3 linked regions of the Homo sapiens genome follow. The protein of the gene in region 1 interacts with the protein of each later gene in a pairwise test. Each region holds a gene or a part of one and is shown in the gene's direction. Other genes may lie near its edges. The genes, in order: FAM9B, MRRF and TGFBI.

Region 1 (3,751 bases):
TGATTGTTTTGCTTTTATTTTCTACGGTTTTGGGTTTAGGCACATTGATGCTGTGTTAAGCACAAAATGATTCATGTGAGATTGTCAGAGTAGATTGTGCCCTTCTCTTGTTCAGTGTACTCTGCCTTTAGTTTATTCATTTATTTTTTGCATTATTTTACATTCATGAGATATCAATTCTCAGATCCATATTTTCCTTTTCTTCATATTTTTCTGATATGTACTTTTTGTATCATTTTGTTTAATTCCATTCTTACATACAGCATATACTTAGGTTTTTATTTTGATCCAAGTTGGAAGTCATTTCCTTTAGAATGCGAGTTTATCTCATTCATATTTCTTGCTCAACAGATTCACTTGGCCTTAATTCTGTTCTTTTATGTTATGTTATGGTCTCTGTAGTATTTTCTTTATTTTCCAACTTTTACTACAGGATTTGTATGCTTTGTGTGTGCTCTTTTTGGTTATATAGGCATTTAAGGCTGTGGATTAGTTTTCCTGATGACTGCCTTTATAATTTCAATAGTATAATGAAACTCTGTATCTTGATTTACAAACTTTAGGCAATATTTATTCACTCCCAACTCCGAAACAACTCTCTCCCTATTACAGGGGATCGGAGGTGGGAAAAAGCTGAGTTAACGATAAGTATTAAGGCATTAATTTGTGGGTGAAGGTTGTGGCATATGTCTGGATAAGTCTGGAGTATGAAGGTTTGTGGGCAAGTCTGGGGCATGAGGATGAGAAAGAAAAGTAGTGAGGAAACAAAAAAGGTTATGGGCTGGGCACGGTGGCTCACGCCTGTAATCCCAGCACTTTGGGAGGCCAAGGCATGCGGATCAACTGAGGTCAGGAGTTCGAGACCAGCCTGGACAACATGGTGAAACCCTGTCTCTACCGAATATGCAATAATAATAATAACAACAACAACAACAACAACAACAACAACAACAACAACAACAGGGCGTGGTGTTGGGCTCCTGTAATCCCAGCTCCTCGGGAGGCTGAGGCAGGAGAATCGCTGGAACCTGGGAAGGGGAGATTGCAGTGAGCTGAGATCTTGCCACTGCACTCCAGCCTGGGCAATAGAGTGAGACTCAGTCTCAAAAACCAACAAACACAAACGATAAAAGCACAATCCATTGATTAAAAAGGACGCAGCTGGGCATGTTGGAAGCACACAGGGCATGGGAGGGAGCCTGGGCTCCACCCACAGGGTGATGGCCATTCTAGCCAAAGGGGCAGGGGTGGCTGGAACAAGCCCCAGGGCGAGGTTCTAGGCCCTGTCCACTTGGCCTCCATCCCAAGTCCTTGTGTCTCTCCCCAGGAGGAGAAGCTGAAAGATTGTGGGGACAGAGGCCCCAAAGGGCCACCCCCACCCCAGTCCACAGCAACCACGGGCTGTCACTTAGGGGAAGGGTGAGGGCGTGCCAGCAGGGGGCCTGGCCCCACACAGCCCGTCACACGCATGTGCACTGAGCCGACCAATCAGCGAGGAGCGCAGGAAGTCCTGCCTGCAGCTCTCACGAGAACTGAGGACCCGTTTTCTTTACTTTTCTTTTTTTTTGTTTTTTTGTTTTGTTTTTTTTGGGACGGAGTCTGGCTCTTGCTGCCTAGGCTGCAGTGCAGTGGTGTGATCTGGGCTCACTGCAACCTCCGCCTCCTGGGTTCAAGCAATTCTCCTGCCTCAGCTTCCTGAGAGGACCCGTTTTCTAAGAGGTCCTAGTGGTGCCGCTGCCTGCAGGTTCTTTGAGGGCGCCACATCAGGGGTCCCTCAGGTGAAGCACTCGTGGTGGGGAGGCGGGAACGCAGGCACGAGGCCCTCTGGGAACCAGGGTGTGAAGCGCTGGGCAGCCCGCCGACCTGTGAGGAAATGGCCCCAGCGTCGTCGCCTGGGGCCTGGGTCAGGGCGAGGCCCTGAGGGTGGGCTAGGGTGGGCTGGGGTGGGCCAGGGCAGGGAGGGAGCTGGAGCTGCCTGGGTGATCCCTAGGGCCCGGGAGGGTCCTGGGGGCTTGTGCATGTGTTGGGGGGAGGGGCCGAGGGGGGGAGAAGTGGGAGTGAGGCGGGGGTGTTGTGGGGGACAGTCTGAGTGGGGCCCTCCTGCCTGGCCGCCCGACAGGACAGGACACTTGGGGTCACCGGGGGTCACCGGGGGTCCCCTGTGCGTCCAGGGGGGCGAGTGGCAGTGCAGCCCCTGACATTCCCCTAGAGGTGGCTGGGGAGATCCTGTGTCACCCAGCGGCCCTCCCAGCCACATGGGGTCGCTAGGTGACTCAGAGGTAGGGCTGAGTTCTGTCCCAAAAGGGCGGCGAGGATCCCGCAGAGGCCGTGGAGTTCAGGTGTGAGGGGCAGCTGTGAGCTTTGCAGCCAGCCCCGGGGACGGGCTGGACGGGCCAGGACAGGAGGGGACACTGGCATCTTTTCCGTCCCTTCCTGCTCCCACATGAGACCCAGGGCGGGCCAGCCCCACCCTTCTTGAACCTGTGATCCCAATGGCTTTCCTTTCCGATGCCAGGTTTCCTTAGCTTCCTTAGTGTGTCTTTGCGCTCACCAGGTTCGGGGATCGCCTCTAGCTTCCCAGGACAACCAGCCACGGATCCTGTGGGCAGGAGGGCTGCCAAGGCCCAGTTGGAGGCTCAATTTATGGCGGCCTGGGGGAAGAAGCATGCAGGTAAATACAGCCCAAGGGGACCCAGAAGAAGGTGCACGCCCAAGAGGACGGTCTGTCTGCTTTCTGCGCTGGGGGCACAGGGGCAGCCCGAGGCCCCAGGCCCCTTCGTGGCTCTGGAGTCCATTGTGCACGTGCTAAGATGCGCCAGGTTTTCAAAGCAGGCTCAAGGGCCTTAGGCTTCCCCGTGGAAGGCTCCCCCTCATAGCAGGGTTACAGATGCTCTCAGAGCAGCTCTTCTCCATGGGTGCAGTCCTGACATCCAAGGGGTCTGAACTGTAGTACGTTGTTTACTGGAACCTGAACCCGAAGGGCTTCCAAAAGTCCCTCGATAAAATGGTCAGGAACCGGTGATTCCATGTATAGCTCTGCTTTAAAGCTTTAATTGGCAGAGAGCCCCCCCCCCCCAAAAAAGTCTACAACTAGTACATTTCTCCACAAAAAATGTCCACAGCAGCATCTTCCTCTAAAAAAGGTTTGTCTTTTACATTTTAATGCAGGAAAGGATCCAGTCCGTGATGAATGTGAGGAAAGAAACCGTTTTACAGAAACAAGGGAGGAAGATGTAACTGATGAGCATGGGGAAAGAGAACCTTTTGCTGAAACAGATGAACACACGGGGTAAAGTGTTTAAGTCACTTTTGCCTGTCGGATAGGGTCTTTTAGGAAAAGTCAGCTTTGGACCATGTCATCACTGTTCTATTCTATGCAGAACATTTCACATAAGACATTTCTTTTCCCAACAAACATGGCATTTTGTGTAGTATTTTGTTAAAATTTTGATGTAACTTTTTTTACAGGGCTAATACCAAGAAGCCAGAAGATACTGCAGGTATGTTTTAGGAGTTATCTGTAGTTTATGAAAATTGTTTTCAGTCATACAACTGTTGCAGTAGGTTATATGAATTAGTGGACGACAAGACTGTCTTAAATGGCTTCTCATATGTAGCATTTAACGTACGTATTTAATGTAATCTATTTGATAAATTTTTCTTACCTTTTTGATTGTTGATGTGGAATGTGAGAATGCTTCTAATAATGGTGAAGCGAGATGGATGGCTTTTCTTTCATACATGTGGAAAT
Region 2 (3,651 bases), on another chromosome or scaffold:
CTGTCATAAATTTCACAAGCTGAAATCACTTACAGCACCCAGATAAAAAAAACAGAACATTCTTAGCATGTCAAAAGTCCCCTTTGTGCTTCTTTCTAGTAAGTACTACCCTTGACCCTTTGCAGATAACTATTATTCTGACTTCTAGTAGCATGGATTCGTTTTCTCTTTTTTTTTACTTTTCAGTTTATATTCTCATATCTGGCCTTTGTACTGTACAGTTTTGTTTTCTTGTGTCTGGCCTCTGTGTTCAACATCATGTTTGTGAGACTCATTTAAATTTTTGTGTGTGTTCATTCTTTCTCATGGTTGCATAGTATTTCATTCATAAATATTACTATTCATTCCAATATTGACAGGCATATCTTTAAATTATTAATGTGCATATTTGGTTTTAAAAGTTCAAAGTTGAAGATATTATTTCAGTTGCTTCTGGCTTCTGTTGTTGCTCTTGGAAAGTGTTCTAAGTTTTAATCCTTCATGGATAATTTGTCTTTTCTCTTGGGCGTTTATAAAGATCTCTTTGTCCTTTGTTTTCTGCAGTCACAACATGTCTAGGTGTGAATTTACTTTTATTGTCCTATTTGAAACTTGTGTTTCTCAATCCGAAGATCCACATCTTTTTTTTTTTTCTTTGATCTGTCGCCCAGGCTGAAGTGCAGTGGCACTGATCTCGGCTCACTGCAACCTCCACCTCCCGGGTTCAAGCGATTCTCCTGCCCCAGCCTCCCGAGTAGCCGGGATTACAGGCACACGCCACCACGCCCAGCTAATTTTTGTAATTTTAGTAGAGATGGAGTTTCACCATTTTGGTCAGGCTGATCTTGAACTCCTGACCTCGTGATCTGCCTGCCTCGGCCCCACAAAGTGCTGGGATTATAGGCATGAGCCACTGCGCCCAGCCCCACATCTTCTATCAGTTCTGAAAAAAAACCTAAGCCATTGGTTTCAAAGCATAATGGTAACATGGGCAAATAAATGTTTTTAAAAATCACTCTGTTGCTTACCAGTTGTTTACTTTGGACGAAACATTTAAATGGCTTGTGCCTTAGATTTCTCATCTGTACCATGGGGACAATACTAATCACTATTCTTCCTACCTCAGAGAGCTATCTTGGATAGCAAGGAGGAGAATGTACTTGAAATTGCATTGCAAGTTATAATATGCCACCCAAATAGTACAGGATTGAGTTCACTGTAGATGTTCAACAAAATTTATTTAATGAATCTCAATAAATATTTGTTGAATGTTTAATGAATAAACAGTGTAAATATTGTTTAAAATTTTATTGTTTTTCTCCTTCCCCATTCCCTATAAAAGAAATGCAAGAATATTTGCATCACTCACAGAAATTATCTATGTATACACCTAGAATGTATATGAAAAATCACTACGATGATTTAGACATAAAATGAAATTATATTCAGCTCCCAATGCTGTTGATTTTCTAAAATATAAGCCATTGTCTCTACCATTGGTAGTGTTTAATGTCTGTAAACTACTATTGTTCCTTTTGTCTGTACTCTACCAGCCATCAGATATTGTGTGCATATCCTTGTCTTAGTGTCCATTTTTAATGAATTAATGTATTTCCTGTCTCTCTAATTAGATTTTGTGGAGATGGGCTAGTGAAAAGTTCATGGGTTTAAAATTAGGCAGATCTGGAACCAGATCTTGACTTTTCCATTTCCTGACCTGTGACATTAGGCAAATAGCTTTACCTTTCTCATCTTCTGTTTACTTTTCTGAAAAGTAAGGGATTAATTTAGTTATGGATTCCCTGCCATGTGTATAGTGTTCTTTTAGGTGTTTGAATGACTTAATTTGTATCCTTGTAGCAACCTTGCAATATAGATGTTACTATTCTTTTACAGGTAGGGAACTTGATACTCAGAAAGATAACTTGCCTAAGGTCATAAAGCTAGTATGCATTATAGCCAGACTTCTAACCTGGGGTGTCTGATTATAAAGTGTGCCCCCTCACTAGTATCTGAGAAGGTGTTTAGCACAGTTGACACTCAGTTAATATAGGCTCTTTTTTAGTGGAGCGATAATGTTTTATAATTTTCTAACACTTGACATTTTTCCCTGTACATAGTAGGTACTTCTTCACCAATTGCTTATTGGCTCTGTTTATGCTGCTGTTGTTTTATTCACTGAATGTTCACTTTTTAGCCAAAGGGAAAGGACAGTCCCAAACCAGAGTGAATATTAATGCTGCCTTGGTTGAGGATATAATCAACTTGGAAGAGGTGAATGAAGAAATGAAGTCTGTGATAGAAGCTCTCAAGGATAATTTCAATAAGACTCTCAATATAAGGACCTCACCAGGTTAGTGACTGAACCAATGTTCTGGGGAGGGATGTAATGGAAAGAGCATGGGTTTGGCAGAGTTGAGTTTTAGTCCCAGCTTTGCCATTTACTAACTGGTGGCCATGGGCAGTTACTTTGCTTTTCTGGTCCTCGGTTTTCTTGTTTGATTCTTAACTTACAGCTTTGGGGTGGTAGTTAAAATAAATGAGGTAACGTATTATGGTTCTAGCATAGTGCCTGGCGCATAGTTAACACTACATTTATTTATCCATGCTGCAAATTTTTGTCTACTTTGGAACTAGGCATTGTGCTAGTGCATAGTAGTAAACAAAAATAGGTATTGTCTTTGCTATCATGGAATTAGACTCTCAGAAAAATGAGATTTTTATTATGAATGTACTATAAACACATCTAGGTATTTAGTCTCATAGTAACTGACATCTTTGGTCCGATTTTTCCAATTTGTCCTGTTTGGCAGTTCTTATCCCTTACTGGGAACCAAATGAATACAGACCTGCCCACGTGAGGCATTTCTATACCCCTGAGCTTGACCAGGAAGATTCCGTTTGGGTTAATAACTTCCTGAAAGTGGCTTTTCTAAGTGGGAAATGTCAGAACTGTCTAGGCCAACTGTTTGCAGATGTGATGGAGAAGTGAGTTGTCAGCTGATGGTGCAAGCAGGCAGGAAAAATCCAGTTGCTGTTAAATTAGGCTTTTGCAAATTGTCATCATCCTAAAGTCAAACCTGGGACCCCTCTCTTAAGGTACCTGTGGGAGCTTGGGCTGCTTCTACTCACATCTTGATTAGGATAGTTCATAAGAAAACTAGAAATATTTCGCTCTTAAGAAAACCAAGTGAAAAATACAGCTCCACTTATAAACACTATCAGAAACATTACCGAGTTCAGAGATGAGATCCAGTGTGAAACTAGAAGACTGTTCCCGTCACTTGTCAACCTTTGGGCTGGGGCATTTCTGCCTTTGCTGACAGTAGAGCGTGCCATTCAATCTCTCTCAACTGTTTATTTTAAACTTGCTTATTATTTTAGGTATGAAACTGATAAAGTGCTCTGTCTCCCCTGTGTTTTCTGGCCTGTTAACATTCTGCAGCCGAAACCAGAGAGCAGTTTGAGAGGAGCTCAGGGAGAAATGTGATACTTAAAATTAGCCAGCAAGCTCCACTCTTGTTGAACTTAAAAAGATGATGGGCCTGGAAAGAGGTTGGGAGTGTAATTTGTTAAATGTTAACCTCTGAGAAAATGAGGGGCAGGAATGAGGCTGAGGGAGATTCTCGCTGGGGACAGATTGAGGGAAAAGGATTTGATGCATTATGTCGA
Region 3 (3,651 bases), on another chromosome or scaffold:
GATGCTTGAAGGTAACGGCCAGTACACGCTTTTGGCCCCGACCAATGAGGCCTTCGAGAAGATCCCTAGTGAGACTTTGAACCGTATCCTGGGCGACCCAGAAGCCCTGAGAGGTGAGCATCCTTTGGCTCCTGCTGCTGCCTCATTTGTGCAGCTAGATTGAGCCCAAGACCTGCTCTGGTCCAAGATGAACATACCACCTGCCATGAGGTGACCCTCAGGATATCCACTGCAGCCATGGGCTGGGGTCATCCTGTCCTGTTGCTTCAGCTAACCGTGTCTCTAGCAGCCACACTACTCTGAGGGCTGACTACAGAATCCAGCAGCTTTTGTCTGGGAGAGCTGGACTGAAGAGAGGCATAGCTGGAGACCCATAGCTGGCCCTGGCCAGAAACAGGGAGAGTGAAAGGCTGGAATAGCCAAGGCCAGAGCAAGGCTAATAGGTAGAGCAACAGCTTACAGGTGTGGGGGTGGCAGATACTGGCACCCTTGAAATGGATTCCTCATGCCCACGCTTCACTATTCTTCTCTGTGGCTAGGGGATTTATGGATAAACCAAAATTACAGTTAAAAACCAGCCATAGGCCAGGCACAGTGACTCACGCCTTTAATATCAGCACTTTGGGAGGACAAGGTGGGCGGATCACCTGAGATCTGGAATTTGAGACCAGCCTGGCCAACATGGCGAAACCCCATCTCTACTAAAAATACAAAAATTAGCTGGGCATGGTGGTGGGCACCTGTAATCCCAGTTACTCAGGGGCTGAGGCAGGAGAACCACTTGAACCCAGGAGGTGGAGGTTGCAGTGAGCCAAGCTTGCACCACTGCACTCCAGCCTGGGTGACACAGCGACACTCCGTCTCAAGAAAAAAAAAAAAAAAAACAGTTATAGTAGTCAACTTTTGACTCTCCATTTCAGATTTCGTCATGCCCTCCTCAATGAGCTGCTAAGTTAGGCAGTGCATTGATTATTGCTGCAGGAGAGGGAAGGAAGGAGCTAACGTGTTTTCACATGTTTTCCTTTTGGAGATGAGAAAGGAGGACTCTGCCTTCCCCCTACCCTGCCCCTTTCTACTCCAGGACCTCTGAAAGGCCATGAGCACAAAGCTGCTGCCTGAGTCCCCTGAAATGCAGGGTACGCCCCAGGTCTCTGATGTACCCCACCACACTTTTCCTCTCAAACATATTCCAGGATCACTTGATTTCTTTTGAATCTATTTAAACCCACCGTGTCAATGTGCTATATAAAATGTCTAATGCATTTCAGACACCCTATACATCTATACATTTAAAGTGTTCTCCTTCTATCTGTGCAGGGATGGGAAAGGGCATATTTCTGAAAGCACAGATGGGAAGACGGGATTTGTTCCGTGTCCAGGTGATTATGGTACCTCTATGCGCCTGGCCGGCACTGGGGACAGAGGCCATGAAAATGAATACAGCACAGCCTTTGCCTCCAAGAAACTTAAGACCTAGTAGAAATGGCAGGCTTTAAAACAGGTTGTTGGGATCTGATTTGGTGAGTGCAATGACAGAGATACTCACAGCACAAAATGGGGAATGAGGGCGGGCATTGGGACACACATAGCCTTAAGGGGCCCAAAGGCTTTTAGAACTGTATTCCCTATTAAAACATGATTTGCACAGAGCACATTCTTTGCTTTGGAGACCTCAGAACTCCTTACTATAGGCCGGGCATGGTTATAATCCCAGCACTTTGGGAAGCCAAGGCGGGCAGATCACTTGAGGCTGAGAGTTCAAGACCAGCCTGGCCAACATGGTAAAACCCCGTCTCTACTAAAAATACAAAAATTAGCTGGGTGTGGTGGTGGCCACCTGTAATCCCAGCTACTCAGGAGGCTGAGGTAGGAGAATCACTTGAACCTGGGAGGCAGAAGTTGCAATAAGCCCAGATCATGCCACTGCACTCCAGCCTGGGCAACAAAGCTAGACTCTCTCAAAAGAAAAAAACAAAACAAAACAAAACAAAACAAAAAAAACTCCTTATTATAAACTGTAAGAAAAAAAAGGCCCCTACTTCGTCCCTTTTGCAAATCTGCCTTTTCCTACTCACTAACCAGCTGGTTCAGAGCAAGGACACTCTGTTTGGTGCCATCGCTGCAGACTGGAAGGAAGAGGTCCTTGCCCCACACCCAACAGTCTCCTGCTGTTACCGGCAGGTTGGCAGGCAGGCAGGCGAGAAGCAGCCAGGGCTGGTGGTGTGTCCAGTTTGAAGACTAGTTTCCAGCCCTGGCCCTGCTCACCCTCCAAGTGGCCCTGGCAGGTTCCTCTACCACATCGTGGACTTCACCTTCCTTCTCTAAGAAGCTCAATCCCCAAGGCCTCATTCCCATAGGCCTTCTCACCCTTTTTCTTTCCCTCTGGCTGAATGTGGCCAGCACGGGCTTCCAAGGCCATCAACTCGTCTGCAGCAGCCCCATGCCTTGCAGGGCCTCAGAGCTTCCTCCTGCCTATGACAGTGTGGTTTTGGTTCCCACACTTGGGATCAGATTGAAACTCGCCTCCGTGGTGAGAATATGGGACATAGAGCCTCGGTGACCTTGGTGAGCAGCAGTCCAGGCCACCTGCTCAGCCTGGGGTTGGGGGGGGCTCCTCCTCCTTGACTGGTCCTTGCATTTGCCTCCATCCAGCCTGTCTGGGCTCTCCGAGGCAATGGAGACCAGCAGGAGTCACGATGGGTCAGGAGCCCCCTTTGGGCCTCAGCCCTGCCCTGCCCCCTAAAGTAGCACTTGGATAAGCAAATAAATTATTATACTTACTATTTATGGGTGTGGTGAATGGGATGGCAAAGGCCAAGTCTTACTGATCACCAAACCTTAAGATATATCCTGGCAGCTAGTAGACCCTTGGGCTAAATGAACAGAAAACTGGACAAATAAAGTGTACACAAATAACTCAAAGCTGTCATTTGTACACTTTTCGTCTTTTCCTACTACAGTTTACATTTTTATAAAGGTGAGTAGATTTCTAAAATCCCGTGGTAGGCTCTCTTGAGTTTTTCTTGTATCCCTGAAGTTCAGCTACAAATAAGCTAATCACTAACATTTGTTGAGCATTTACTCTGTTGTCAGGCCCCGTGCCGAGTGCTTTAGGTTCAGAATTTCATGTCATCCCCACAGCAGCCCTAGGAGATGAATGCAATTCTTATGTCCACTTGACTGATAAGGAAGTTGAGGTTCAAAGAGGCTAAATGACTCTCCCAGGGTCCCACAGCTGGAAAGTGGCCACAGGGCCCCAGCTGGTTTTCTAGGGCAGCAGGCAGAAGGCGAGGAGGATCTGGGCCCTGTGGTGCCCCAGCCTCATCTGAGGGTCCTCATCTGAGAGAACAGGATCCTCACAGCATGGGCAGGCTGCAAGTGGTCCCTGAGGTTATCGTGGAGTGGACCCTGACTTGACCTGAGTCTGTTTGGACCCCAGACCTGCTGAACAACCACATCTTGAAGTCAGCTATGTGTGCTGAAGCCATCGTTGCGGGGCTGTCTGTAGAGACCCTGGAGGGCACGACACTGGAGGTGGGCTGCAGCGGGGACATGCTCACTATCAACGGGAAGGCGATCATCTCCAATAAAGACATCCTAGCCACCAACGGGGTGATCCACTACATTGATGAGCTACTCATCCCAGACTCA

The links.
Region 2: the proteins of FAM9B (region 1) and MRRF interact in binary tests that used the Homo sapiens proteins (3 or more experiments, as listed by UniProt).
Region 3: the proteins of FAM9B (region 1) and TGFBI interact in binary tests that used the Homo sapiens proteins (3 or more experiments, as listed by UniProt).

The regions. Positions count from the first base shown.
Region 1 is NC_000023.11:9,031,879-9,035,629, reverse strand, and holds the start of FAM9B (protein FAM9B), read left to right. Parts: upstream 1-1,502; 5' UTR 1,503-1,778; intron 1,779-2,346; exon of another isoform or gene 2,347-2,508; coding exon of another isoform or gene 2,509-2,643; coding exon 2,644-2,671; intron 2,672-3,168; coding exon 3,169-3,289; intron 3,290-3,468; coding exon 3,469-3,500; intron 3,501-3,751. UniProt on the Homo sapiens protein: May play a role in meiosis.
Region 2 is NC_000009.12:122,278,267-122,281,917, forward strand, and holds part of MRRF (ribosome-recycling factor, mitochondrial isoform 1 precursor), read left to right. Parts: intron 1-2,176; coding exon 2,177-2,332; intron 2,333-3,651. UniProt on the Homo sapiens protein: Responsible for the disassembly of ribosomes from messenger RNA at the termination of mitochondrial protein biosynthesis. Acts in collaboration with GFM2. Promotes mitochondrial ribosome recycling by dissolution of intersubunit contacts.
Region 3 is NC_000005.10:136,049,468-136,053,118, forward strand, and holds part of TGFBI (transforming growth factor-beta-induced protein ig-h3 precursor), read left to right. Parts: coding exon 1-113; intron 114-3,439; coding exon 3,440-3,651.